Linked DNA regions of Homo sapiens: regions 2, 3, 4 and 5 are each linked to region 1. The links come from fine-mapping of genetic effects on gene expression. A gene starts in region 1. Each other region holds a variant in brackets. All regions are shown on one strand. Distances are between the middles of the regions. Region 1 holds the start of COPRS (coordinator of PRMT5 and differentiation stimulator). Region 2 overlaps RHOT1 (ras homolog family member T1). Region 3 has its middle 26 kb from the start of COPRS. Region 4 overlaps UTP6 (UTP6 small subunit processome component). Region 5 has its middle 46 kb from the start of COPRS.

Region 1 (5,131 bases):
CCTTCTTTCAAGCAATACATGAAAGTGTCAGTACCCTTACCTGTACTGGTGTAATTATATCTTTTATTTTTACCATTTTATAGGTGAAATGTGATATGTCATTGTTTTACCATACTTTGATATTAGTGAAGTTAGTGTATTTTATGTTTCTCATCTTTTTACATCCTTAGACTATTTAAAAATTTTTTTTCTTACTAATTTATGAGTTAATTTTTTTTTTTAAATTGGACAAGTTCTTGCTTTGTCACCTAGGCTAGAGTGCAGTGGTGTGATCATGGCTCACTACAGCCTTAACTTCTGGGCTCAAGAGATCCTCCCACCTCAGCCTCTTGAGTAGCTGGGACTGCAGGTGCACACCACCATGCCTGGTTAATTTAAATTTTTTTTTGTAGAGACTGGTCTTGCTATGTTGCCAGGGCTGGTCTCTTAAACAGTTGGGCTCAAACAATCCTCCTACCTCAACCTCCCAAAGTGCTGGTATTATAGGCATGAGCCATTGTGCCTGGCCAGAGTTTTTAAAAACATATTCAGAATATTAATATCTTGTTTCTCATTTGTTGCAAATAATTTTACCCCCAGCCTTGTTTGTGGTGATTTTTTTTTTTTGAGACAGAGTCTTGCTCTGTGGTCCAGGCTGGAGTGCAGTGGTGTGGTCTTACTGCAACCTCTGCCTCCTAGGTTCAAACAGTTCTCCCTGCCAAAGCCTCCCAAGTAGCTGGGATTATAGGCACCTTTTGTGGCGATTTTTGATGCCCAGAGGTATTTTGTGTGTGTATGTGTGATGTCTGTTTTTAAAATGCTTTGGAAGCTCTTCCTGGTGCTGAGAACAACTCTTTTTCCCCAAGCAGTTAATTTTGCCAACACTATTTGGGCAGTTATGTTTCTCTCTGCTGATTTGTGATGTTACCTTTATTATATATTAAATTTCTATGAGTATTAGAGTCTACTTTAGAACATTTTTATTTTAAGCTTTTGTACTGTTTTCTTTTTCTTTCTGGTTTTTTTTTTTTTTAGACCAAGTCTCACTCTGTCGCCCAGGCTGGAGTGCTGTGGGGCAATCTCTGCTCACTGCACCCTCCACCTCCCGGGCTCAAGTGATTCTCCTGCCTCAGCCTCCCGAGTAGCTGGGATTATGGGTGTGTGCCACCACGCCTGGCTAATTTTTGTATTTTTAGTAGAGATGGGGTTTCACCATGTTGGCCAGGATAGCCTTGAACTGACCTCAAGTGATCTGCCTGCCTCGGCCTCCCAAAGTGCTGGAATTACAGGAGTGAGCCACCGCGGCCAGCCCCTGTTTTCTTGTCATTTGTTTTAAAATAAGAAAAAAATTCCTCTTTTTCCTGTCCCTTAAGTCCTGGGATGTTTAACATTCTTAATCTTATTTGGCACTTTAATTTTACGAAAGAGATATGTAGATTAGGGAGCAAAGAGGATAGTGGTAGTCTCCTTAACACAAGGCTATAAGGGTGGTCACCTGGGGTCATCACATCCCTGTATCTGATTCTCAATATTGCAGGTTATGAAAACACATCTAGCTAGTACACCTAGAGTTGCACTGTTAGAAACAGTAGCTCCAAGGCACATGTAGCAATTTAAATTTATTAGAATTATTCAATTTATTCACATTGGCCACATTTCAAGTGCTCAGTAGGTATATGGTTACTATATTGGACAGTACAGATAGTAGAACTTTCATTTCCACTTCCACCATTAAAGAACGTTCTATTGGACATTGCTGACCTAGAGGCAGTTAGCCTTGGGGATACTGACTCCTGTGTAGGAACATCTACATATAGAACAAAAATAATATCGAATATTGTGTGTCAGTTTTATGCTAAATTTTTTCAAATGCCTTTTGTGTTGTACAAACAACACAGTCTTTGAGGGGGATGAAGGAAGAGGGTCTCATGTCCTGATGTTGACGTGATTAGCACACCTTGAGCTGGTTTGTTATTAGAGGTTAGGCACTGTGGGGAAGGCAGGGAAGGCTGTCTTTCCAGTTGGGCTGTTCCCAGCTCAGGCCCTGCCTATCCCCAGAAGCCACCTTTCGAGGCAAAATGGGAAATAATTAGGTTGTCGGTATCAGGCGTTGAGCATGGAAATACAGGAATCCCGAATGTTCAGGATTATTATGAGTAAGCGTCGTGGCCTGTATTCTGTGTCCACTGCATATTGCAGTTTGTGTCTTAATCATCTATCTTGGTTTCTAATGGATTAACTTCAAAGACGATCATTAGCTCAAGGTGGAGGTCACTGGGTTGCTCATGTGTCTTACCCACGCGGGGTTTTGAAGCTGGAGCACACCCCGAGTGGCCGAGTAGGGTACGCTTGGCGTTTCACACGCAGCTAGTCGTGCAGCCTTAGGATATGCACCGAGAGGAGTTTCCAAAATCCGTCTCCGAGATTGTTTCAGATTTCGCGCTGGGAGGGAGGGGCGGGCTCCGCGAGGCCGCGCGCCCCGCCCCCTGCGCCGCCCCGCCCCCGCTTGCTCGTGACACCCCCGCGCCCCGCCCTCTTGGCCGGTACCCACCCCCTCCCCAGGCTGATTGGCGCTTCTGCGGCGGATCCTCGGGCGGGCAGCCGGGCCGGCGCGTCACGTGGCCCACGGCGTCCAGGGCGACCAGCCGCGGGCCGCAGGGCATGGACCTTCAGGCCGCCGGGGCCCAGGCGCAGGGGGCCGCGGAGCCGTCTCGGGGCCCGCCGCTGCCTAGCGCGCGGGGGGCGCCCCCCAGCCCGGAGGTGAGCGCCGCGTGGGGGCCAGGAGCAACAGCCAGCCGCAGCCTGGGGCGGGAAGTCGCGGGGCCGGGCTGGGCGGGGGCCGCGGGGCCGGGGAAGCGCCTCTGGCCGGCCTCGGGCCGCCCCGCGACACGGAGCGCTGTTTGGGCTCGCGCTCGAGCTGAAAACGGCCAGGCCGCGGGGCCGCGGGGCTGCGGGGCGGGGAAAGCCGAGGGCGTGGGTGGGCGCTCTGGGTCAGCAGAGACGGCTGTCCGCCCGCTGGGCGCCGCTGCGGATTTGGTAAATGGGAGGTGACGCTGGTGACCGAGAGCCGGGGCCCGCTGCCAGGAGCCTGGGCGAGGGCCAGGTGAGGGCGGCGAGGAGAGGGACTTGACTTTACAGACCTGTGGACCTCTGTCCGTTGGTGGGGATGCCAGCTAACCCTGAGCCCCAGATGTCACATGCGCGCTCCCCCTTCTCCTTACTGAAACCAGAAAGGCCCTGTTTGACGCAGGGTTTCCAGAAACTTGTTTTCATGTAAGCTAGACAGCTCCTGGTTTTCCCGAGAACGTTACAGACCGTTATTACAGTTCTTACCTGTCCTTGTTTACAGTCTGTACCGGCTAGGTGCTGAGCGGCTTGAAGGTAGGAACCCTCTGTTAGGGCTGTTTGCACAGCCTAGCATAGTGCCTGGCACAGGAGATAGACATACCGACTGGATGAATGATGCCTCAAAGATGGTACTTAGCCAAAGTAAGATATGAAAAATGCAGCGACACTTACAAAGAAAATTACTTTGGAGTGCAGAATAGAATGGGACTAATTTTGTCAGGGCATAGCAGGAAAGGATCAAGGTGAGAGGCTGGTGGTGTCTGCAGAGGCGTGGAGATGAGAAAGTGCAGGGCACATGGCCTGGAGTTGGGTCTCAGAGCATGCAGAGAACTATGCTCAACAGGTTGATGGGAGTGGGAGAAGAGGGGACGTGCGAATGCCATGGCTAATTTTGTGCTCTCTCAGTGGAGGGCTGTTGAAGGTTTTGAGCAGAGTAGTGATTAATTCTGTAAGGCTGGGCCAGATGGCTGGATGGGAAGGTGGTTAGGAGGCCGTGGCAGTGGTTTAGGTGAGAGGTCTGACTTCTCCTTGGGCGGCAGTGACCAGAGGTTGTCACTAACTACAGGGAGTGGAACTGAATTATTAAACCCAGACATGACTAGATAATGAATGCTGATTGGAGCAGGTGCCGAGTACAGTTTAGATGTAGCAGAAAAGATGAATTTAAATTCAAGAAATGTTACATTCTTGCCACATGCCAGGTGTTTTCATAAATGGTGTCTAATCATAAGTCCCCTGCAGGGTCAGAACAGTCACCCCTAATTTCTGGAGAAGAAAACTCAGGCACAGTAATTGAAGTGATGTGTTCAAGGTCACACTCTGAATGGATGGCAGAGCTGGGATCAAAATCAGGTCTTTTATGCAGGCAGGGAACATTTCGTGATTCATTAGAAAGAGGTCTTGGAGGTCATAGGGTTTCAGGAACTTCTGAGTGATGGGAGCAGAGAAGCATTTGGTTGGCTGTGCGGGAAGATTTTCAGTTAGATTAGAAATACTGCCTTCAGTGCTCAGCATTGCAGAGGAATTATAAAGCTTCCCCCACCTCAGTGTGTTGGTGAGGAAACAGAGAATTTGATAGAGTTGTTTACTAGCTATAAAGTTGTTAAGTAACTGAAAAGGTAAAACGTGTACCTGGGGGTGGCAACCGCAGGGAACAGCTACCAACCTATGGCTGAAGGAACAAAGAGATGAAGTTGATTAAAATTTAAAAGCTTAGGGAAAAGGCTCTGCAGAGCTGAAATTCCAACCTTTAAGGAGAAGGCACTGCCCCAGCTGATGGTAGGGGGTCTCTGAGCTTGGAGGAGAGTCCTGAGACCCAGACCTCTAAAGAGAAGGTGCAGTGATAAGACTGGCTCTGCAAGAGTTCGCAGAACTGTATACTGGATTCTGTGGCCACTATAGGAAGGCATTCCTGCTGCCACGGTGAAGTGTCATGAGGTGATGCCTACATGAATAGGAAGGAACAAGGCCCATCTCCCTCCAGCCTTGCTCAGTTTAACAGGGCAAAGTAGAAATGTGGGTGGCAGAGTCCCAGCCCTGCATCACCAAGGGGAGTATGGAAGAGTGGGTGGGGTTGAGATGCAATAGCTGAATACTGGGCATACCCCAGATACCCAAGTCCTTGGTAATCATTTCTTCTTCCTGCAGGCTGGCTTTGCTACAGCTGACCACTCCAGTCAGGAGAGAGAGACTGAGAAGGCTATGGATCGACTAGGCAAGTAGATGGCAGAGACGGAAGTTGGGGAGACCAAGGATGTGAGGAGAGGAATAGTCCCTCTGTCTCATTTACCTTCTCTTTTAGCCA
Region 2 (5,000 bases), 310 kb before region 1:
GTCAGTGAGCAGTAATATTTTGAAAGGAATCTTTTTTTTTTTTGAGGAGTAGGTCTCAACAGTAGCCTTAAAATATTCAATAAGCCATTCTGTAAACAAATGTTTCCTTTTCTTTTTTTCCTTAGAGATGGGGGTCTCTGTCACCTAGGCTAGAGCATAGTGGGATGATCATAGCTCACTGTAGCCTCAAACTCCTGGGCTCAAGCAATCCTCCTGCCTTAGCCTCCTGAGTAGCTAGTATCACAGGCCACGCCACCACATCCAGTGAATTTTTTAATTCTTTGTACGGACAGGGTCTCACCATGTTGCCCAAGATGATCTTAAACTCCTGGCCTCAAGCAATCCTCCTGTCTTGGTCTCCCAAGTTGCTGGTATTATACGACCCAACCAAGATTTTCGATGTAGATGAAACAGCCTTGTATCAGAAGAAGATGCCATCGATAGCTAGAGAGCAGATATCAATGCCTGGTTTCAATGCTTAAAAGGATAGGCTGACTCTTGTTAGGGGCTAATGCAGGTTGCTGCCTTTAAGTGGAAGCCAGTGGTCATTTGCCAGTCTGAAAATCCTAGGGCCCTTAAAAATTATGCTCAATCTGGCCGGGCATGGTGGCTCACGCCTGTAATCCCGGCTACTTGGGAGGCTCCACTAAAAATACAAAAATTAACCGGGCATTGTGGTGGGTGCCTGTAGTCCCAGCTACTCGGGAGGCTGAGGCAGGAGAATGGTGTGAACCCGGGAGGCGGAGCTTGCAGTGAGCCAAGATTGCACTACTGCACTCTAGCCTGGGCGACAGAGCGAGACTCCGTCTCAAAAAAAAAAAAAAAATTATGCTCAATCTATTCTGCCTGTGCTCTATAAATGGAATAACAAAGCCTGGATGACAGCACATTTGTTTACAGAATGGTTTATTGAATATTTTAAGGCTACTGTTGAGACCTACTCCTCAAAAAAAAAAAAGATTCCTTTCAAAATATTACTGCTCACTGACAATACACCTGGTCACCCAAGAGCTCAGATGGAGACGTACAAGGAGATTATTTTCGTGCCTGCTAACATGACATCCAGTCTGCAGTCCATGGTTCAAGGAGTAATTATAACTTTCAAGCCTTATTATTTAGGCTTACTATTTACATTGTGTAAGCCTATATATAGCTGCCATAGATAGTGATTCCTCTGATGGATGTGGGCAAAGTAAACTAAAAACCTTCTGGAAATAATTCACCATTCTAGATGCCATCAAGAACATTTGTGATTCACAGGAGATCAAAGTAACATTATCAGGAGTTTGGAAGAAGTTGGTTCCAACCCTCACATGACTTTGAGGGATTCAAGCCTCAATGAAGGAATTGCAGATATGGTGGAAATAGCAAGAAAAGAGCTAGAATTAGAAGTGAAGCCTAAAAATGTGACTAAATTGCTGCAATCTCATAATAAAACTTGAACAGATGAAGAGTTTATTATGGATGAGCAAAGAATGTGGTTTCTTGAGACAGAATCTACTGGTGAAGATGCTGTGAGCAATATTGAAATGACAACAAAGGACCTGGAATATTACATAAACTTAGTTGATAAAGCAGCAGTAGGGTTTGAGAGGATTGACTCCAATTCTGAAAGAAGTTCCACTGTGGGTAAAATGCTATTAAATGGCATCACATGCTACAGAGAAATCTTTAGTGAAAGGAAGAGTCAATCGATGCAGCAAATGTCATAGTTGTCTTATTTTAAGAAATTGCCACAGCCACCCCAGCCTTCAGGAATCACCACCCTAATCAGTCAGCAGCCATCAACCCTGAGGCAAGACTCTCCACCAGCAAAAAGGTTACAACTCACTGAAGGCTCAGATGATCATTAGCATTTTTTGACAATAAAGTATTTTTAAATTAAGGTATGTACATTTTTTAGATATTACATTACACACTTAACAGACTACAGTATAGTATGAACATAACTTTTTTTTTTTTTTTTTGAGATAGAGTCTCGCTGTGTCACCCAAGCTGGAGTGCAGTGGCACAATCTTGGCTCACTGCAACCTCTGCCACCCAGGTTCAAGCGATTTTCATGTCTCAGCCACTCGAGTGGCTGAGATTCCAAGCATGTGCCACCATGCCTGGCTACATTTTTTTGTATTTTTAGTAGAGATGGGGTTTCGCCTTGTTGGCCATGCAGGTCTCAAACTCCTGGTCTCAGGAGATCCGCCCATCTTGGCATCCCAAAATGCTGGGATTACAGGCATGCACCACCACACCTAGCCTATAAACATAACTTTTATATGCACTGGGAAAACAAAAAAATTTGTGAGCCACTTTACTGTGGTAGTGTAGAACCAAACTCACAGTTTCTCTGAGGTATGCCTGTTTACTTATTTATATATGAGTATAGACTAACAGATTCCTCTATTATCCTATTATTTTATGGTTTGTCATTATTTGGAGGTTCAAGTTCCATTTTACTTCTAAAAATGATATTTATGCAGGTATAAGTCAACATGTGCAATATGA[T/A]CCCATTTTAAAGATAAATATGTATGTGCATAGAAAAAACCACTGGATGAATATATTATACTAAAGTGGTTATCTTGGAAAATAAACACAAAAATTTTTTAACTAGAAAAGATCAGTAACTTTTTTTTTTTTTGAGACAGGGTCTCTCTCGATCACTCAGGCTGGAGTGCAGTGGCACGATCTTGGTTCACTGCAACTTCCACCTCCCAGGTTCAAGCCATTCTTGTGCCTCAGTCTCTTGAGTAGCTGGGATTACAGGCATGTGCCACCATGCCTGGCTAATTTTTGTATTGTTTTTTTTTTTTTTTTTTTTTTTTTTGAGACGGAGTCTTGCTCTGTCGCCCAGGCTGGAGTGCAGTGGCGCGATTTCGGCTTATTGCAAGCTCTGCCTCTTGGGTTTACGCCATTCTCCTGCCTCAGCCTCCCAAGTAGCTGGGACTACAGGCACCTGCCACCGTGCCCAGCTAATTTTTTGTATTTTTAGTAGAGATGGGGTTTCACCGTGTTAGCCAGGATGGTCTCGATCTGACCTTGTGATCCGCCTGCCTTGGCCTCCCAAAGTGCTGGGATTACAGGCGTAAGCCACCACGCCCACGCCCGGCCCTGTTTTTTTTGTTTTGTTTTGTTTTTTTGTTTTTTGTTTTGCTGTTGTTGTTGTTAGTAGAGAGGGAGTTTCACCATGTTGGCCAGGCTGGTCTTGAACTCCTGGCCTGAAGTGATCCACCTGCCTTGGCCTCCCTAAGTGCTGGGATTATAGGTGTGAGCCACCACACCCAGCTTATTTATTTTTGAGACAGGGTATCACTCTGTCACCCAGGCTGAAGTGCAGTGGTGCCATCACAGACCACTGAAGTTTTGACCTTCCAGGATCAACGATCCTCCCACCTCAGCCTCCTGGGTAGCTGGGACTACAGGTGTGCACTACTATATACCTGGCTAATTTTTTGTATTTTTAGTAGAGACAGGGTTTCACTATGTTGCCCAGGCTGGTCTTGAATTCCTGGGCTCGACATCCATCTGCCTCAGCCTCCCAAAGTGCTGGGACTACAGGTGTAAGCCACCACATTCAGCCTCAGTAAGTATTATTTTTAAGGTAATTTTTGGTATTAAAAATTGGGATGTTAGTCTGGGCACGGTGGCTCACGCCTGTAATTCTAGCACTTTGGGAGGCCGAGGTGGGCGGATCATGAGGTCAAGAGATCAAGACCATCCTGGTCAACATGGTGAAACCCCGTCTCTACTAAAAATACAAAAATTAGCTGAGCATGGTGGCACACGCCTGTAGTCCCAGCTGCTTGGAAGGCTGAGGCAGAAGAATCGCTTGAACCCGGGAGGCAGAGGCTGCAGTGAGCCAAGACGGCGCCACTGCACTCCAGCCTGGCGACGGAGCGACACTCCGTCTAAAAAAAGAAAAAAATTGGGATGTTAAAGATGACAACTAAAATTTACCCAAAAGTTGACAGGTTAAATGCATTCTTTCATCCTTTGATAAATATTTTTTAAGCAATTCTATAAGCCAGGCACTATTCTTTTCGCGCAGTGGCGCGATCTTGGTTCACTGCAACCTCCGCCTCCTGGATTCAAGCAATTCTCCTGCCTCAGCCTCCCTAGTAGCTGGGACTACAGGTGCACACCACCACGTCTGGCTAATTTTTGTATTTTTATTAGAGACAGGGTTTCACCATGTTGGCCAGGATGGTCTCGATCTCTTGACCTCGTGATCCACCTGCCTCGGCCTCCCAAAGTGCTGGGATTACAGGGGTGAGCCACCACGCCTGGCCACCAGGCACTATTCTTCATCCTGGGGATACCACTGATCATGGCCACTAGGTCCTCTCTACTTTTACATTACATTGTAACAGACTTAGATAGTTATCACCAATATAGTTAACATTCTTTGTTTTTTTTTTCCCTTTCTTTTTTTTTGAGATGGAGTCTTGCTCTGTCACCCAAGCTGGAGTGCAGTGGCACGATCTCAGCTCACTGCAACCTCTGCCTCCCAGATTATAGTGATTCTCCTGCCTCAGCCTCCAAAGTAGCTGGGATTACAGGTGCGCACCATCACGCTGGCTAATTTTTGTATTTTTAGTAGAGACGGGATTTTACCATATTGGCCAGGCTGGTCTCGAACTCTTGACCTTGTGATCTGCCCACCTTGGCCTCCCAAAATGCTGGGATTACCAGGCGTGAGCCACCACACCCAGCCTTGGTTAACATTCTTTTTACATATCTGGATAAAAAGAAAAATTTTAAAAATGTACCATCTCCGATTCATCATTCTTCTGCATTTAGCAGTCAAGATCTGTCAAATTTTCCTTTGAAATTTTTAACATTCATTCCTTCCCTCACTGTTCCCCTATTTCCCTAATTATGGTACTTTTATTGAAAAATCTCCCAGTCCCAAATTTCCTATCCCTTTCTCCAGTCTCTCTCCTCATTAATCTACCAACAATATAAATGCTGGTCCATTTTTCTTACATGCTCTTTTCATTTTCTGACTC
Region 3 (5,131 bases), 26 kb after region 1:
CTATTTTTGATGGATAATTTCCAGTTTGCGGTTATTATGAAGAATGCTATGAATGTTTTTGTTCACTACTATCTGGTGAACATATGTATGGATTGCTATTAGATATATACCTAGGAAGGGAATTGCTGGGTCATAGATTATAAACATGTTCAGTTTTAGTAGATACTGCCAAAGGGTTCTCTTAAGATTGAACCGATTTTCACTCCCATAAGAAGAGTGTGGGCAGCCGGGTGTGGTGGCTCATGCCTGTAATCCTAGCACTTTGGGAGGCTGAGGCAGGTGGATCACGAGGTCAGGAGTTTGAGACCAACCTGGCCAACATGGTGAAACCCCATCTCTACTAAAAATACAAAAATTAGTCAGGCGTGGTGGCAGGCGCCTGTAATCCCAGCTACTCAGGAGGCTGGGGCAGGAGAATCGCTTGTACCTGGGAGGCAGAGATGGCAGTGAGCCAAGATCGCACCATTGCACTCCAGCCTGGGTGACAGAGCAAGATTCTGTCTCAAAAAAAAAAAAAGTGTGTGGGCCGGGTGCAGTGGCTTACGCCTGTAATCCCAACACTTTGGGAGGCTGAGGCAGGCAGATCACTTGAGGCTAGGAGTTCAGGACCAGCCTGGCCAACATGGTGAAACCCTGTCTCTACTAAAAATACAAAAATTAGCCAGGCATGGTGGTGGGCACCTGTAATCCTAGCTCCTCGGGAGGCTGAGGCATGACAGTTGCTTGAACCTGGGAGGCAGAGGTTGCAGTGAGCTGAAATTGTGCCACTGCACTCCAGCCTGGGCCACAGAACAAGACTCTGTCTCAAAAAAAAAAAAAAAAGTGTGTGAAAGTTCCAGTTGCTCCACATCTTTGTCAACACACAGTATTTCAGTTTTTTTTTTTTTTTAATTTTAAAAAATCTGATGGCTGGCAATTTTCTAAGTTTACTTGAGGCCGACTCTCACCTCTTCCATTCCACCAAGACTGCTCTTGCCAATGGTCAGTGCTCAGTCATCGTCTCGTTTGACCCACCACCTTGACAGTTTTGAGGAGTGCTAGTCAGGTATTTTGTAGGATAGCCTGCTATTGGGATTTCATCTGCTTTTCTCACCGCAAGACTGGATATTTGATGTCTATTACTGTGTGCTAAATATGATGCTCAGTCCTGTTTCAGAGATAAAGCCTCTTTTCTTTTTATTTTTGAGACGGAGTCTCAGTCTGTTGCTCAGGCTGGAGTGTAGTGGTGCCATCTGGGCTCCTGGGCTCACTGAACTCCCAGTTCCAAGTGATTCTCCTGCCTCAGCCTCCCGAATAGCTGAGACCACAGGCGCGCACCACCATGGCTGGCTCTTTTTTTTTTTTTTTTTTCAGTAGAAACAGGGTTTCACCATGTTGGCCAGGTTGGTCTTGAACTCCTGACTTCAGGTGATCCACCCGCCTTGGCCTCCCAAAGTGCGAGGATTACAGTTGTAAGCCAGCGTGCCCAGCAAAGCCTAGGTTCTTAGCTTGCGCTCACTGAACAGCCTTGCATATCTCCTCCTTGTCTCAGTTCTCTCAGTGTGGCTTCCAGGGCCCCATACTCTCTCGGTTTTCCTTTAACCACAGTGGCTTCCCCTCTTCACCCCCTCTTCTGGTTTCTCTTCTCTCTGACCTCTCTCTGTTGGCGGTGCTTCAGGGCTCAGCCTTTAACTCTCTTCTCTATATTCACTCTGCTGGTGAGCTCCTGCAGCCTCATGGCTTTAAATACCATCCGTATGCTGACATTTCCCAAATTTACATCTGTAGCCTGGAATTCTCTCCTTAATTCCATATATATATTTTTTTATTTTTATTTTTTGAGACTGGGTTTCAGTGTGTCACCCAGGCTGGAGTGCAGTGGCATGATCACAGCTCACTGAAGCCTTGACCTCTCAGGCTCAAACAATCCTCCCACCTCAGCCTTCTGAATAGCTACAGGGACTAGACTCATGCCATCATGCCCAGCTAATTTTTGAATTTTTTTTGTAGAGACAGGGTTTTGCTGTATGGCCCCGACTGGTCTTGAACTCCTGAGCTTGAATGATCCTCGTGCCTTGGCCTCCTAAAATGCTGGGATTACAGGCATATGCCACTGTGCCCAGTCAATTCCATATATCTAACTGCTGACTTGGCATTTCGCCTTGAATGTTTAATAGCTCAAATTTGGCCAGGCGTGGTGGCTTACGCCTGTAATCCCAGCACTTTGGGAGGCCGAGGCGGGTGGATCATGAAGTCAGGAGTTCAAGACCAGCCTGGCCAAGATGGTGAAACCCCGTCTCTACTAAAAATACAAAAATTAGCTAGGTGCAGTGGCAGGTGCCTGCAATCCCACTACTCGGGAGGCTGAGGCAGGAGAATCGCTTGAACCTGAGGGACAGAGGTTGCCGTGAGTGAGCCGAGATTGCGCCACTGCACTCCAGCCTGGGCAACAGAGTAATACTCCGTCTCAAAACAAAACAAAACAAAAAACAAACAAAAAACAAAAAAAACCCCTCAAATTCAGCAAGTCTAAAATGTACCTTCTTTTCTTTTTTTTTGAGACGGAGTCTTGCTCTGTTGCCCAGGCTGGAGTGCAATGGCATGATTATCTTGGCTAACCGAAACCTCTGCCTTCCGGGTTAAAGTGATTCTCCTGCTTCAGCCTCTTGAGTAGCTGGGATTACAGGCATGTGCCACCATGCCTGGCTAATTTTGTATTTTTTTTTTTTTTGAGATGGAGTCTTGCTCTGTCGCCCAGGCTGGAGTGCAGTGGTGTGATCTCGGCTCACTGCAACCTCCGCCTGCCGGGTTCATGCCATTCTCCTGCCCCAGCCTCCCGAACAGCTGGGACTACAGGCGCGTGCCACCACGCCCGGCTAATTTTTTTTTTTT[G/TTTG]GTATTTTTAGTAGAGAGGGGGTTTCCCTGTGTTAGCTAGGATGGTCTCAATCTCCTGACCTTGTGATCCACCTGCCTCAGCCTCCCAAAGTGCTGGGATTACAGGCGTGAGCCACTGCTCCCGTCCTAATTTTGTATTTTTAGTAGAGATGGGGTTTTTCCATGTTGGTCAGGCTGGTCTTGAACTGCCAACCTCAGGCAATCCTCCTGCCTCGGCCTCCCAAAATGCTGGAGAGAGGTGAAGCCAGCTGGGCTTCTGGATCAGGTGGGGGGAATTGGAGAATTTTTATATCTAGCTAAAGGATCGTAAACACACCAGTTAGCTCTGTGTCTAGCTAAAGGTTTGTAAATGCACCAGTCAGCACTCTGTAAAAACGGGCCAATCAGCGCTCTGTAAAATGGACCAATCAGCGCTCTGTAAAATGAACCAATCAGCAGAATGTGGGCGGGGCCAAATAAGGGAATAAAAGCTGGCCACCAGAGACCCCCAGCAGCAACCCGGTGGGTCCTCTTATGTGGTGTGAAGGCTTAGTTCCTTTGCTCTTCGGAATAAATCTTGCTGTTGCTCTGTAATCTCAGTACTTTGGGAGGCCGAGACAGGCAGATCATGAGGTCGGGAGATGGAGACCATGGTGGCTAACAAGGTGAAACTCTGTCTCTACTAAAAATACAAAAAAGAATTAGCCGGGTGTGGTGGTGGGCACCTGTAGTCCCAGCTACTCAGAAGGCTGAGGCAGGAGAGTGGCGTGAACCCAGGAGGCGGAGCTTGCAGTGAGCCCAGATTCCTCCACTGCACTCCAGCCTGGACCACAGAGCGAGACTCCGTCTCAAAAAAAAAAAAAAAAAATCTTGCTGTTGCTCACGCTTTGGCTTCGCACTACTTTTATGAGCTGGAACACTCACTGAGGAGGTCTGCAGCTTCACTCCTAAAGTGAGTGAGACCACGAACCCACTGGGAGAAACAACTCCAGACATGCCACCTTTAAGAGCTGTGACACTAAACGCGCCACCTTTAAGAGCTGTAACACTCACTATGTAGGTCTGTGCTTCACTCCTGAAGTCAGCGGGACCACGAACCCATCCGGAGGAACAAACAACTCTGGATACGCCACCTTTAAGAGCTGTAACACTCACTGCGAAGGTCAGCGGCTTCATTCCTGAAGTCAGCAAGACCACGAATCCACCAGAAGGAAAAAACTGGGGACACATCTGAAGGAACAAACTCCAGATACATCAAGAACTGTGCCACTCACCGCGAGGGTCTGTGGCTTCATTCTTGAAGTCAGCCAGACCAAGAACCCACCAGAAGGAACCAATTTTGGACACACTGGGATTACAGGTGTGGCCCAGCGTGCCTGGCCCCCCTTTTTTCATACCTTAAATCCAGTGTCAGGAATCGATTTGTTTCTGCCTTTCAACACATCCCAATACAATCTCATCCTTCTCTTGCTACCTACCATCCTTGCCAGAGCCACTATTAATTTTCACCTGGATTACTGGAATAGCTTCCTATTTGGTCTTTGTTCCATTCATGTATTCTTAGCAGAGAAGCCAGGGTGATCGTTTTGCTATATAAGATTGTACCAATTTGCACTCCCACAGGAAGTGTGAAAGTTCTTTGTTAGATCTTCTTCCCCTGCTCAAACTCCCCCAGTGGCTCCATATTTCCGAGGAGGAGTCCATGTTTTTACGGTGGCACACCAGGCCTTGTACAACCGGGTCTTCTGCTACTTATGTGACTTCATCTTTTTTGCTTGGCTCTCCACACTCCACCCCTTTTTCGTGTTGCTGGAGCGAGCCAGGCATGACCCTGCCTTCTGGCCTTCGTGGTGGCTCTTGCTGCTGCCTGCCTGGAATGCTCAACCACAGATAGTCTTATGGCTAACTCCCTTGCCTCCGTAAAGCCTTGCTCAGCTGGCTTGAGGGTTTCTGCCTGTATCTGTGAATTTAAACATAAGGGCTGGCTTGTGGTTTACATAAGGGTAAACATGTTTTTCTTTCCATATATTTTCAAAGTTTGACATGGGCCATTTTCCTTGCTCTTTTGTGGGACATGTGTCTATTTCTAGCCTGCCCTTATTTGTACTGGAGATGTGGCCCAGCTTTATAGGCGGGCTCTCCTGTTCCATCTCCAGCTTGATGGGCTGGGGTTTGTTTCCTCTTTCGTGCACTCTATGGGGGATTAAGAGTTGAAGCTCAGGATCGCTTGGCTTTGGTCCATTTCCTCAGGGAGAAAGCCAGCTTCCACATCCTCTCTGGG
Region 4 (5,131 bases), 36 kb before region 1:
ACCTGGTGATCCACCCGCCTCGGCCTCCCAAAGTGCTGGAATTACAGGCATGAGCCACCACGCCCGGCCAACATCAGTTTTTTAAAAAAATTAAAAGAATTCCAGAAACGTTCATTAGATAGATATTTCTGAACAGGAGTAGCATTGGGAGTAGCATTACTCCACTAAGACTGTAGTCCTGGCCAAACTGAACTTACTTTTCCCCTCCTCTTTCTCTCTTGTCGTTTTCTTTCTTTTTTTTTTCTACTGGGTTTGTAGATCAGAGATTGTCAGAGACATAGTGTGTATCAGGACTTCAGCAAGAGATTTGCCTCTTGGTGAGCAAGATAGAGGAGAGTGAATGTGATGAGTGTAGAGAATTGAAAAGTTACTGCTTGTTTATCTATTGTCTGTCCACTTGGAAAGAGGTGTACTGCAAGATTTTTTCATCTTGTAAATGCATGGAAGGTTTGAATAAAGAAAAATTATGTCAGACCAATTTTCCAGTGGGGGAGAATAGCTAATATGTTGGATGACGGAATCAGGATTCAGAAAGAACCAATAACAAGATCACATGTTTATAAGACTAGAAGTTTTGGTTGGGCATGGTGGCTCATGCTGTAATACCAGCACTTTGGGAGGCTGAGGCAGGCAGATCACCTGTGGTCAGGAGTTCGAGACCAGCCTGGCCAACATGGTGAAACCCCCATCTCTACTAAAAATACAAAAATTAGCCGGGTGTGGTGTTGGGTGCCTGTAATCCTAGCTACTCAGGGGCTGAGGCAGGAGAATTGCTTGAACCCAGGAGGTGGAGGTTGCAGTGAGCCAAGATTGTGCCATTGCACTCCCAGCCTGGGAGACAAGAGCGAAACTCCATCTCAAAAAAAAAAAAAAAAAAAAAGACTAGAAGTTTTGAGCTTAGATTTAAAAAGACAAAAGACAGCCGAACAAACAATATATGAACCTTGGCTAAGCTATTGTTTTTGGAAGAGGTCCTATGAGTAGATTGCTCACTCAAAATGAGCCAAGACCATATTATGTCAAAAATAGATTTTTTTTTTTCCAAATAATACACTCACTCTTGCCCAGGCTGGAGTGCAATGGTGCGAGCACTCATTGCAGCCTCGAACTTCTAGGCTCAGATGATCCTCCTGCCTCAGCCTCCCAAGTAGGTAGGACTACAGGCTTGTGCCAGATGGCTGGCTAATTTTCTTATTTTTTGTAGAGATAGGGTCTCCTTATGTTGCCCAGGCTGGTCTTGAACTCCTGGGCTCAAGTGATCCTCCTGCCTTGCCGTACCAGAGTTTTGGGAATTACAGACTTGAGCCAGTGTGCCCAGCCAAAAGATTTCTTAAAGCTAAATTAGACTGTGAAAGCACAAACCATGAGAGAAAAGACTGATTTATTTGATTGTGTTCAAAATACAAATTTCTGGAGGGGCGTGGCGGCTCACGTGTGAGACAGGCAGATCGCTTGAGCCCAGGAGTTCAAGACCAGCCTAGGCAACATGGCAAACCCCATCTCTACAAAAAATACAAAAATTAGCTGGGCATGGTGGTGCACACCTGTAGTCCCAGCTACTCTGGAGGTTGAGGTGGGAGGATCAGTTGAACCTGGGAGGTGGAAGCTGTAGTGAGCCATGATGGCGCCATTGCACTTCAGTCTGGGTGATAGAGACCCTGTCTCAAAAAAAAAAAAAATTTTTTTCTGTGCAAAAAAGACACTACAAATAATGTGAAAATACAAGCCACAAAATGTGAGAAAATATTTACAACACATAATTAGAACTACATATACACATATATAAAGAACTGTAAATCGAGAAGAAAATGAAAACTAAAAAGAAAAATGGGCAAATCATGTGAACGTGAAAGTCACAAAGGGGAAACATCACTTGTAGTTAAACTTATGAAAAGACATCAGCCTTATCAGTAATTAGTTAAATAAAGATTAAAACAA[G/A]GTGTAGGGGCCGAGCGCGGTAGCTCATGCCTGTAATCCTAGCACTTTGGGAGGCTGAGGCGGGTGGATTACTTGAGGTTGGGAGTTGGAGATCAGCCTGGTCAACATGGTGGAACCCCATCTCTACTAAAAATACAAAAATTAGCCAGGCACGGTAGCACGTACCTGTAATCCCAGCTACTGGGGAGGCTGAGGCAGGAAAACTGCTTGAATCCGGGAGGCGGAGGTTGCAGTGAGCCTAGGTTGCGCCACTGCACTTCAGCCTGGGCGACAGAGCGAGACTCCATCTCAAAAAAACAAACAATAAAAAAAAACCAGGTGTAGGACTGCTTTATATTCATTATAAGAGCAAACTTTTTTTTTTTTTTCTTTTTTGAGATGGAGTCTCGCTCCGTCACCCAGGCTGGAGTGCAGTGACATGATCTCGGCTGACTGTAACCTCTACCTCCTGATCAGCCTCCCAAGTAGCTGGGATTACAGGCACACACCACCAGCCTCGGTGAATAGGGATATAGCTAAAGGGATAATGTTGAGTAGAAATATGGATTGATGGGCCGGGCACGGTGGCTCATGCCTATAATCCCAGCACTTTGGGAGGCCAAGGTGGGTGGATCACTCGAGGTCGGGAGTTCAAGACCAGCCTAGCCAACATGGTGAAACCCCATCTCTACTAAAAATACAAAAATTAGCCGGGCATGGTGGCAGGCGCCTGTAATCCAAGCTACTCGGGAGGCTGAGGCAGGAGAATCTCTTAAAGCCAGGAGGCAGAGGTTGCAGTGAGCCGAGATTATGCCACTGCACTCTAGCCTGGGCGACAGAGGGAGACCCCGTCTCAAAAAAACAAAACAAAACACCTATGGATTGATGGATGTAGCATGATACCATTTATGTAAAATTTAAAGGCATTCAAGACATCATTATAATAAAGTCCAAAGTCATGTTTGGGAATGATAACAAAGTCAAGGTAATTGCTGCCTCTGGAGAGGGAGAAGAGTAGAATCAGAGATAGGTACATAGGTAGCTTCATTTTTATACGAACTGTTTTATTTCTAAAAAAGATTTGAAGCAAATGTAGTGCAATGTAGGTTTGGTGTAGCTGCATTGTAGCTGCATGGGGTGTTTTATATGCTTGAAATATTTCATGGAATAATTTTTAAGTGAAGCATGTAATTATAAGCTTGTTAATTCTGTTTAAGTTTTATAGCTAAGTGAATTTTAAGTGAGTTCTAGACATTTATTGTAAATTATGTGATAGCACATTATTTTTTATTTTATATTCTCGATTTTTGTTTTATGACTTTAACTAAATTTCCAGTATTTAAAAGGTTTTAGATTTTCTAGCTTCTCATTTTTTTGTATGTTTTTCTTTCATAGTATGAAATTAATCTTTTGGAGCTGATCCAGAGAAGAAGAACAGTAAGTAGAAGATTTTCTAGAAGTTGGAGAAAAATACAGAACTAAGCAGTATGGCTGTATAGTTAGGACTTGTGTTTGGGAGACAGTGTTGATAAAACTGTGGTGATATGCCTATAATGGATATTTGTAATTATTTGTTTGCTTCATCAGTACCATTAAGTGGTCAAGTAGGAATGCTGTTTTGGACAAATATGATTAAGTTGAGGCTCTGTTTTTTTATGTCCCCCTTTAGCGCATTGGATATTCATTTAAGAAGGATGAGATTGAGAATTCTATTGTACACCGGGTACAAGGTGTTTTCCAGCGTGCCTCAGCAAAATGGAAAGTGAGTGATCAAGGCATCCTTAACTTTATGAGATGTGAAGATAAGTATTATACATATTGTATTAGGGATTCAAATGCAGTTTTCTATTTTTATCTTGGGTATCTTTATACTTACTCTAATGATGGTATCATTACTCAAAACATTTTTTGAGCCACTTAACAAACCAGTAAGAAAATTGATCTTATTACCTTATAGTTATTCTATGAGGACAGTGCTGAAAACAGTGTATTTGATACATTACTAAGGATTGGAAATTTGGGAGATATTTGTATATATTTGTAAGTACACTGAAGACTTAGAGCTAGAAAATAAATGGTTATGTAGGGGCAATACCTCAGAAACTTGATTTTTTTTTTTTTCTTTTTTTTTTTTTTTTGAGATAAGGTCTCACTGTGTTGCCCAGACTAGAGTACAGTAGGGTGATCTCGGTTCACTGTAACCTCTGCCTCCCAGGCTCAAATGATTCTCCCACCTCAGCCTCCCCAGTAGCTGGGATCACAGGCGCATGCCACCGTGCCTGGCTAATTTTTGTATTTTTGGTAGACATAGGGTTTCGTCATGTTTTTTAGGCTGGTCTCGAACTCCTGGGCTCAAGTGATCTGCCCACCTCAGCCTCCCAAAGTGCTGGGATTACGGGAGTGTTTGGGATTGGGTATATTATATGAGAAGTATTTTGGATTCTTGGTAATGACAAATTTTATATTGCTACCCCAGATTGAGATTCTTTAAGAACTGCATTAAACCAACTGGATAGATAACAAAGTTTTTTTGGAGCATTGTGAGTGGGAGTTGGGGGAAAGGTTGAATTATCATAGTTAAGAGATCGGAGGCCTTTGTGAGGAAGAGCCAGATAGGATGAGAGGTGACTGGATTTTCTGAAATCTGCTTCTTTTTTTTTTTTTTTTTTTTTGGTGGGGGATGGAGTTTTGCTCTGTTGCCCAGGCTAGAGTGCAGTGGTGTGATCTTGGCTCACTGCAACCTCTGCCTCCCAGATTGAAGCAATTTTCCTGCCTCAGCCTCCCCAGTACCTGGGACTTCAGGCACGCACCACCGCGCCTGGCTAATTTTTGTATTTTTAGTAGACAGGGTTTCACCATCTTGGCCAGGCTGGTCTCAAACTCCTGACCTCAGGTGATCCACCTGCCTCAGCCTCCAAAAGTGCTGGGATTACAGGCCTGAGCCATTGTGCCTGGCTTTTTTTTTTTTTTTTTTTTGAGGTGGAGTCTTGCTCTGTCACCCAGGTTAGAGTGCAGTGGCACACAATCTCGGCAGCTCACTGCAACCTTCGCCTCCTAGGTTCAAGTGATTCTTCTGCCTCAGCCTCCCTAGTAGCTGGGATTACAGGCACATACCACCACACCTGGCTAATTTTTTTTGTTTGTTTTTTTGAGTTGGAGCTTCCCTATGTTGCCCAGGCTGGAGTGCAGTGGCCCGATCTCGGCCTCCCGGCTT
Region 5 (5,131 bases), 46 kb after region 1:
CACCCAGCCTCTCTTGCCCATTTTCTAACTCAATTGTCTGTCTTATTATTGAGTTACCAGAGTTCTTTATATATCCTAGATATAAAAATTTTGTCAGATATATGCTTTGTAATATTTTCTCCTAGTCTTGCCTCCTACTGTGGCAATAGGACTAGTTCAGGAACCATCAATGACATGTGAGTGGAAGTGATATGTGTGACTCTTAGGTCAACTTTTAAGACATAATGAAGCTTTTCCACTTGTTTGTTATCTTTACATTGGCTATAAAGAGGCCCCAGGGGACAGTAGAGCCACAGGAAGGAGCCTGTGTCCCTTAAACCCCACGTGGAGAAAAGCTGCCTGTCCACCAGGGCCACTGAAATTAACAGTAGTGAGAAATACATTTCTATTGTGTTAAGACACTGACATTCTGGAGTCTATGTGTCAGTCTACATAGAGACTAAAAATAAATTTCTAGGCAGGGCACGAGGGCTCATGCTTGTAATCCCAGCACTTTGGGAGGCGGAGGTGGGCGGATCACTTGAGGCCAGGAGTTTGAAACCAGCCTGGCCAACATGGTGAAACTCCCGTCTGCACTAAAAATACAAACAATTAGCTGAGCATGGTGGTACGTGCCTGTAATCCCAGCTACTTGGGAGGCTGAGGCATGAGAATCACTTGAACCCAGGAGGCGGAGGTTGCAGTGAGCTGAGATTGTGCCGCTGCACTCTAGCTTGAGTGACAGAGTGAGACTCTGTCTCTAAATAAATAAATAAATAAATAAATAAATAAATTTCTAATCACACTGATACATGTGACTTCTGTTCAATATATTTTGTTTCAAGAGATCATCTGAAGCAATTTCCAGAATTTGTTCTTCCAACCAGATCAATTTATTTGTTAAGAAATTGATGATAATCTAGTTTGGGGAAATATATATTTAAACATTTTATTAAGTCTTTCAAGTGTTTCTTTGCAAATTTTTTTTTTTTTTTTTTTTTGAGACAGGATCTTGCTCTGTCACCCAGGCTGGAGTGCGGTGGCACGAACATGGCTTACTGCAGCCTCCACCTCCTGGGCTCAGGTGATTCTCCTGCCTCAGCCTGCTTTGTAGCTGGGGCCACAGGTACATGCCACCATGGCTGGCTAATTTTTTTATTTTTTTTGTAGGTACAGTGTCCCACTACGTTGCCCAGGCTGGTCTTGAACTCTTGGGCTCAAGTGATCCTCCTGCCTCGGCCTCCCAAAGTGCTAGGATTACAGGTGTGAGCCACTGCACCCACCCTCCTTTATAATGTTAAAATAATTTCAGTAAGTTCTTTTTCTTTTATTCTTGTTTTTGAGATGGAGACTTGCTCTGTCGCCCAGGCTGGGGTGCAGTGGTGCCATCACTGCTCACTGCAACCTCCACCTCCTAGGTTCAAGGAATTCTCCTGCCTCAGCCTCCCGAGTAGCTGGGATTACAGGTGCCCACCACAAAACCCGGCTAATTTTTGTATTTTTAGTAGGGATGGGGTTTCACCATGTTGGCCAGGCTGGTCTTGAACTCCTGACCTCAAGTGATCTGCCTGCCTCGGCCTCCCAAATTGCTGGGATTACAGGTGCAAGCCACCACACCCTGCCCATTTCAGTGAGTTCTTCTAATGAGTTCACAACCAGGTTCATGGTGGAAATGTTCTCAGAATTTGTTCATGGGTTGGTTCAATGAAGTTGCTTCTGGAGCCTTAGGAGGGCTGTAGCTGATGGAGCCTCCATCTAGTGAGCACACACTCCATCTGGTTAGCACTTCATATAGATTTTTCTCTCAGCCCTTGTCATACCATCAAGAGGTAGGAAATAGAATTCCCATTGTAAAGCTAGGGAAACCGAGGCTCAAGAGAACTGAAGTCACTTGCATAAGGCTGTACCAAGACTCAAACCTGAATGTGCCCAGTTCCAGACTTGCCCTCTGCTATCCTGATGGGAGTGAGACTGAACTAGAGGCCATAGTTCTGCCTCATTTTCCCCCAGGGACCTGGTCCTGGGCTCCTCACAGGGGGCCTCAGCGATCAGCCAGATGCTTCTCAGGCCAAGGGCCTGGGGCTGCCTCAACAACCAGTTCCTTCTTCTTGGTGGACTCCATTCTGAAGGAGCCATGGGAGGTAATAGAGCCTCAGCATGGAGGGACTGTGCACGTGTGCATGGGTGCACCAATGTCCCCACACCAGGATAGAGGAAACATAGACAGCCATTAGCTTTCTCTTTTCCAAGCCTCCTCTCCCACCACCACCATGCCATGGCTGCCCTGCCTTCACATCTACAAGAGTGTTGGAGGCTTCCCACCCTGGGGGAAGCACAGCTGAATGTCTGGAGAAGAATCACAGTGTCCATTTTGCTCCTGTGCCTTGCCAGTGGGGCATCTGGATTTTGGGGACTTGTCTTCAGAAGGCGTAGGGTTTATAGGTGATGATTACAAGTAGGTTAAAAACATCTTGTAAGGAAGAAATGAAGGTATAAG[G/C]TTCTTTATTAATTTTTAAAATTTTCTGTCATGTGACTTGTATGAGTCCATTTTCATGCTGCTGATAAAGACATACCTGAGACTGGGCAACTTACAAAAGAGTTTATTGGACTTACAGTTCCACTTGGCTGGGGGAGCCTCACAATGATGGTGGAAGGTGAAAGGCACGTCTCACATGGCAGCAGAGAAGAGAAGAGAGCTTGTGCAGGGAAATTCCTTTTTTTTGTCTTTTTTGAGATGGAGTCTTGCTCTGTCACCCAGGCTGGAGTGCAGTGGCACAATCTTGGCTCACTGCAACCTCCACCTCCTGGGTTTGAGTGATTCTCCTGCCTCAGCCTCCCAAGTAGCTGGGATAATAGGCATGTGCCACCATGCCCAGGTAATTTTTGTATTTTTAGTAGAGATGGGGTTTCACCATGTTGGCCAGGCTGGTCTTGACCTCCTGACCTCAGGTGATCCACCTGCCTTGGCCTCCCAAAGTGGTGGGATTACAGGTGTGAGCCACTGTGCCTGGCCTCCTTTTTAAAACCATCAGATCTCATGAGACTTATTCACTACCACAAGAACTGTATGGGAGAAACTGCCTCCGTGATTCAATTATCTCCCACTGGGTCCCTCCCACAACACATGGGAATTATGGGAGTACAATTCAAGGTGAGATTTGGGTGGGGACACAGAGCCAAATCATATGACTTTCTTATTTTTATAATTGAATTTATAAAAAATGCAACGAATTTCACAAGTTGCTTCTCTATATGAGAAACATCTTTTGTAGCTCAGCTTTATTTCCTGCATGTGTTTCAAATAATAATATTGTGTTGTGACCAGGTGCAGTGGTTTATGCCTGTAATCCCAGCACTTTAGGAGGCCAAGGCAGGAGGATCACTTGAGCTCAGGAATTTGAGACCAACCTGGGCAACATGGAGAAACCGTTCTTCTACCAAAACCCACCCCTCCCAAAACCGAAAAGCAACAAAAATTAGCCAGACGTGGTGGCTTGCGCCTGCAGTCCCAGCTACTCAGGAGGCTGAGGTGGGAGGCTCACTTGAGCCTGGGGAGGTGGAGGCTGCAGTGGGTTGAGATTGTGCCACTGCACTGCAGCCTGGGTGACAGAGAAAGACACTGTCTCAATAATAATAATATTAATAATAATGCTGCATTGCAAGGAGGCTTTAAAAAATTATTTAAAAATTTTTGGTAAAATATACATAACATAAAATGTACCATTTTAACCCCCACCCCTTTTTTTTTGAGACAGAGTCTTGCTCTGTTGCTCAGACTGGAGTGCAGTGGCATGATCCCAGCTCACTGCAACCTCTGCCTCCAAGGTTCAAGTGATTCTCTTGCCTCAGCCTCTCGAGTGGCTGAGATTACAGGCGCCCGCCACCATGTCTGGCTAATTTTTTTTCTATTTTTAGTAGCAACGGGGTTTCACCATGTTAGCCAGGCTGATCTTGAACTCTTGACCTCAGGTGATCTGCCCACCTCGGCCTCCCAAACTTCTGGGATTACAGGCGTGAACCACCATGCCCGGCCCATTTTAATAATTTTTTTTTTTTTAGATGCAGTCTCAATCTGTCACCAGGCTGGAGTGCAGTGGCAAGATCTCAGCTCATTGCAAGCTTGCCTCCTGGGTTCAAGCGATTCTCCTGCCTCAGCCTCCTGAGTAGCTGGGACTACAGGCGCTCGCCAGCACGCCCAGCTAATTTTTGTATTTTTAGTAGAGACGGGGTTTCACCATGTTGGCCAAGATGGTCTCAATCTCTTGACCTCGTGATCCTCCCGCCTCGGCCTCCCAAAGTGCTGGCATTATAGGCGTGAACCACAGCCTTAATCATTTTAAAATGTACAGTTGAGTGGCATTAAGTACATTCGCATAGTTGTACCACCGTCACCACTGTTCATCTCCATAACTTTTCTTATCCCAAACTGAAACTTGATACCCATCCAACACTAACTTCCCTTTTCCTCCTCCCCCCAGTCCTTGGCAATCTCTATTCTACTTTCTGTCTCTATGAATTTGACTATGTGCTGTTCCTCATGTAAATGGAATCATACCATTTGTCCTTTTTTGTCTGGCTCATTTCACTTGGCGCAATGTCCTCAAGCTCCATCTATGCTCTAGTGTGTGTCAACATGCATCCTTTCTCAGGCCAAATACGATTTTACTGTATGTACATATCATATTTTGTTTATCCATTCATCTGTCAATAAACATTTGGATTGTTTCTACCTTTTGGCTACTGGGAATAATGCTGCTAAGAACATGGGCGTACAAAGATATTTGAGTCCTTGCTTTCCATTATTTTGGGCATATGCCTGCAAGAGGAATTGCTGCCAAAGAGCTTTTTAGAACTCATTTTGGGGACTTTCCCAGGTCATTATTTTGAATTTCTTCAGCTATGGCCACTGTCTGTCTTCTGAATGTAGATTTGATTTTTAGAAACTCCCAGCACAAAATGGAATGAGAGGGCTTACCCACACTGCATCTTCTAATAAAGGAGTGTGAAGAAGGAAGACACATAAGTTCCCTTCCAGAGGAAGGAATTGAGGCTGAGAGAGGGTAAGGGCTTGCCCAGTGTGCAGGGTTGCAGTAATAGGGCTGGGGTTCAAACTCTGGTCTGTCTGAACGCAAAGCCTCTGCTTGGTCCTTGA

Evidence for each region. PIP is the estimated chance that this variant, and not a neighbour inherited with it, causes the effect.
Region 2: its variant is the best candidate, but not a certain one, in a credible set for the expression of COPRS in whole blood (INTERVAL, PIP 0.88).
Region 3: its variant is the best candidate, but not a certain one, in a credible set for the expression of COPRS in whole blood (INTERVAL, PIP 0.60).
Region 4: its variant is the best candidate, but not a certain one, in a credible set for the expression of COPRS in whole blood (INTERVAL, PIP 0.60).
Region 5: its variant is the best candidate, but not a certain one, in a credible set for the expression of COPRS in thyroid (GTEx, PIP 0.68).

What each region holds. Positions count from the first base shown.
Region 1 is chr17:31,856,709-31,861,839 of GRCh38, reverse strand. COPRS (coordinator of PRMT5 and differentiation stimulator) reads left to right here and starts at 2,596. Exons shown (of 4, transcript NM_018405.4): 1 at 2,596-2,739; 2 at 4,975-5,041. The coding sequence starts at 2,641. It overlaps UTP6 (UTP6 small subunit processome component), which reads left to right. Exons shown (of 19, transcript NM_018428.3): 19 at 1-936. RefSeq lists a silencer at 2,446-2,875 and an enhancer at 2,935-3,609.
Region 2 is chr17:32,163,155-32,168,154 of GRCh38, reverse strand. All of the region lies in intron 1 of RHOT1 (ras homolog family member T1), which reads right to left. Among named protein-coding and RNA genes, the nearest start is that of RHOT1, 23 kb to the right of the region's middle. The variant T/A (reference allele first, on the strand shown) is at 2,500.
Region 3 is chr17:31,831,093-31,836,223 of GRCh38, reverse strand. No RefSeq gene overlaps it. Among named protein-coding and RNA genes, the nearest start is that of COPRS, 26 kb to the left of the region's middle. The variant G/TTTG (reference allele first, on the strand shown) is at 2,872.
Region 4 is chr17:31,893,193-31,898,323 of GRCh38, reverse strand. It overlaps UTP6 (UTP6 small subunit processome component), which reads left to right. Exons shown (of 19, transcript NM_018428.3): 3 at 3,313-3,354; 4 at 3,587-3,679. Among named protein-coding and RNA genes, the nearest start is that of UTP6, 6.0 kb to the left of the region's middle. The variant G/A (reference allele first, on the strand shown) is at 1,939.
Region 5 is chr17:31,810,679-31,815,809 of GRCh38, reverse strand. No RefSeq gene overlaps it. Among named protein-coding and RNA genes, the nearest start is that of COPRS, 46 kb to the left of the region's middle. The variant G/C (reference allele first, on the strand shown) is at 2,477.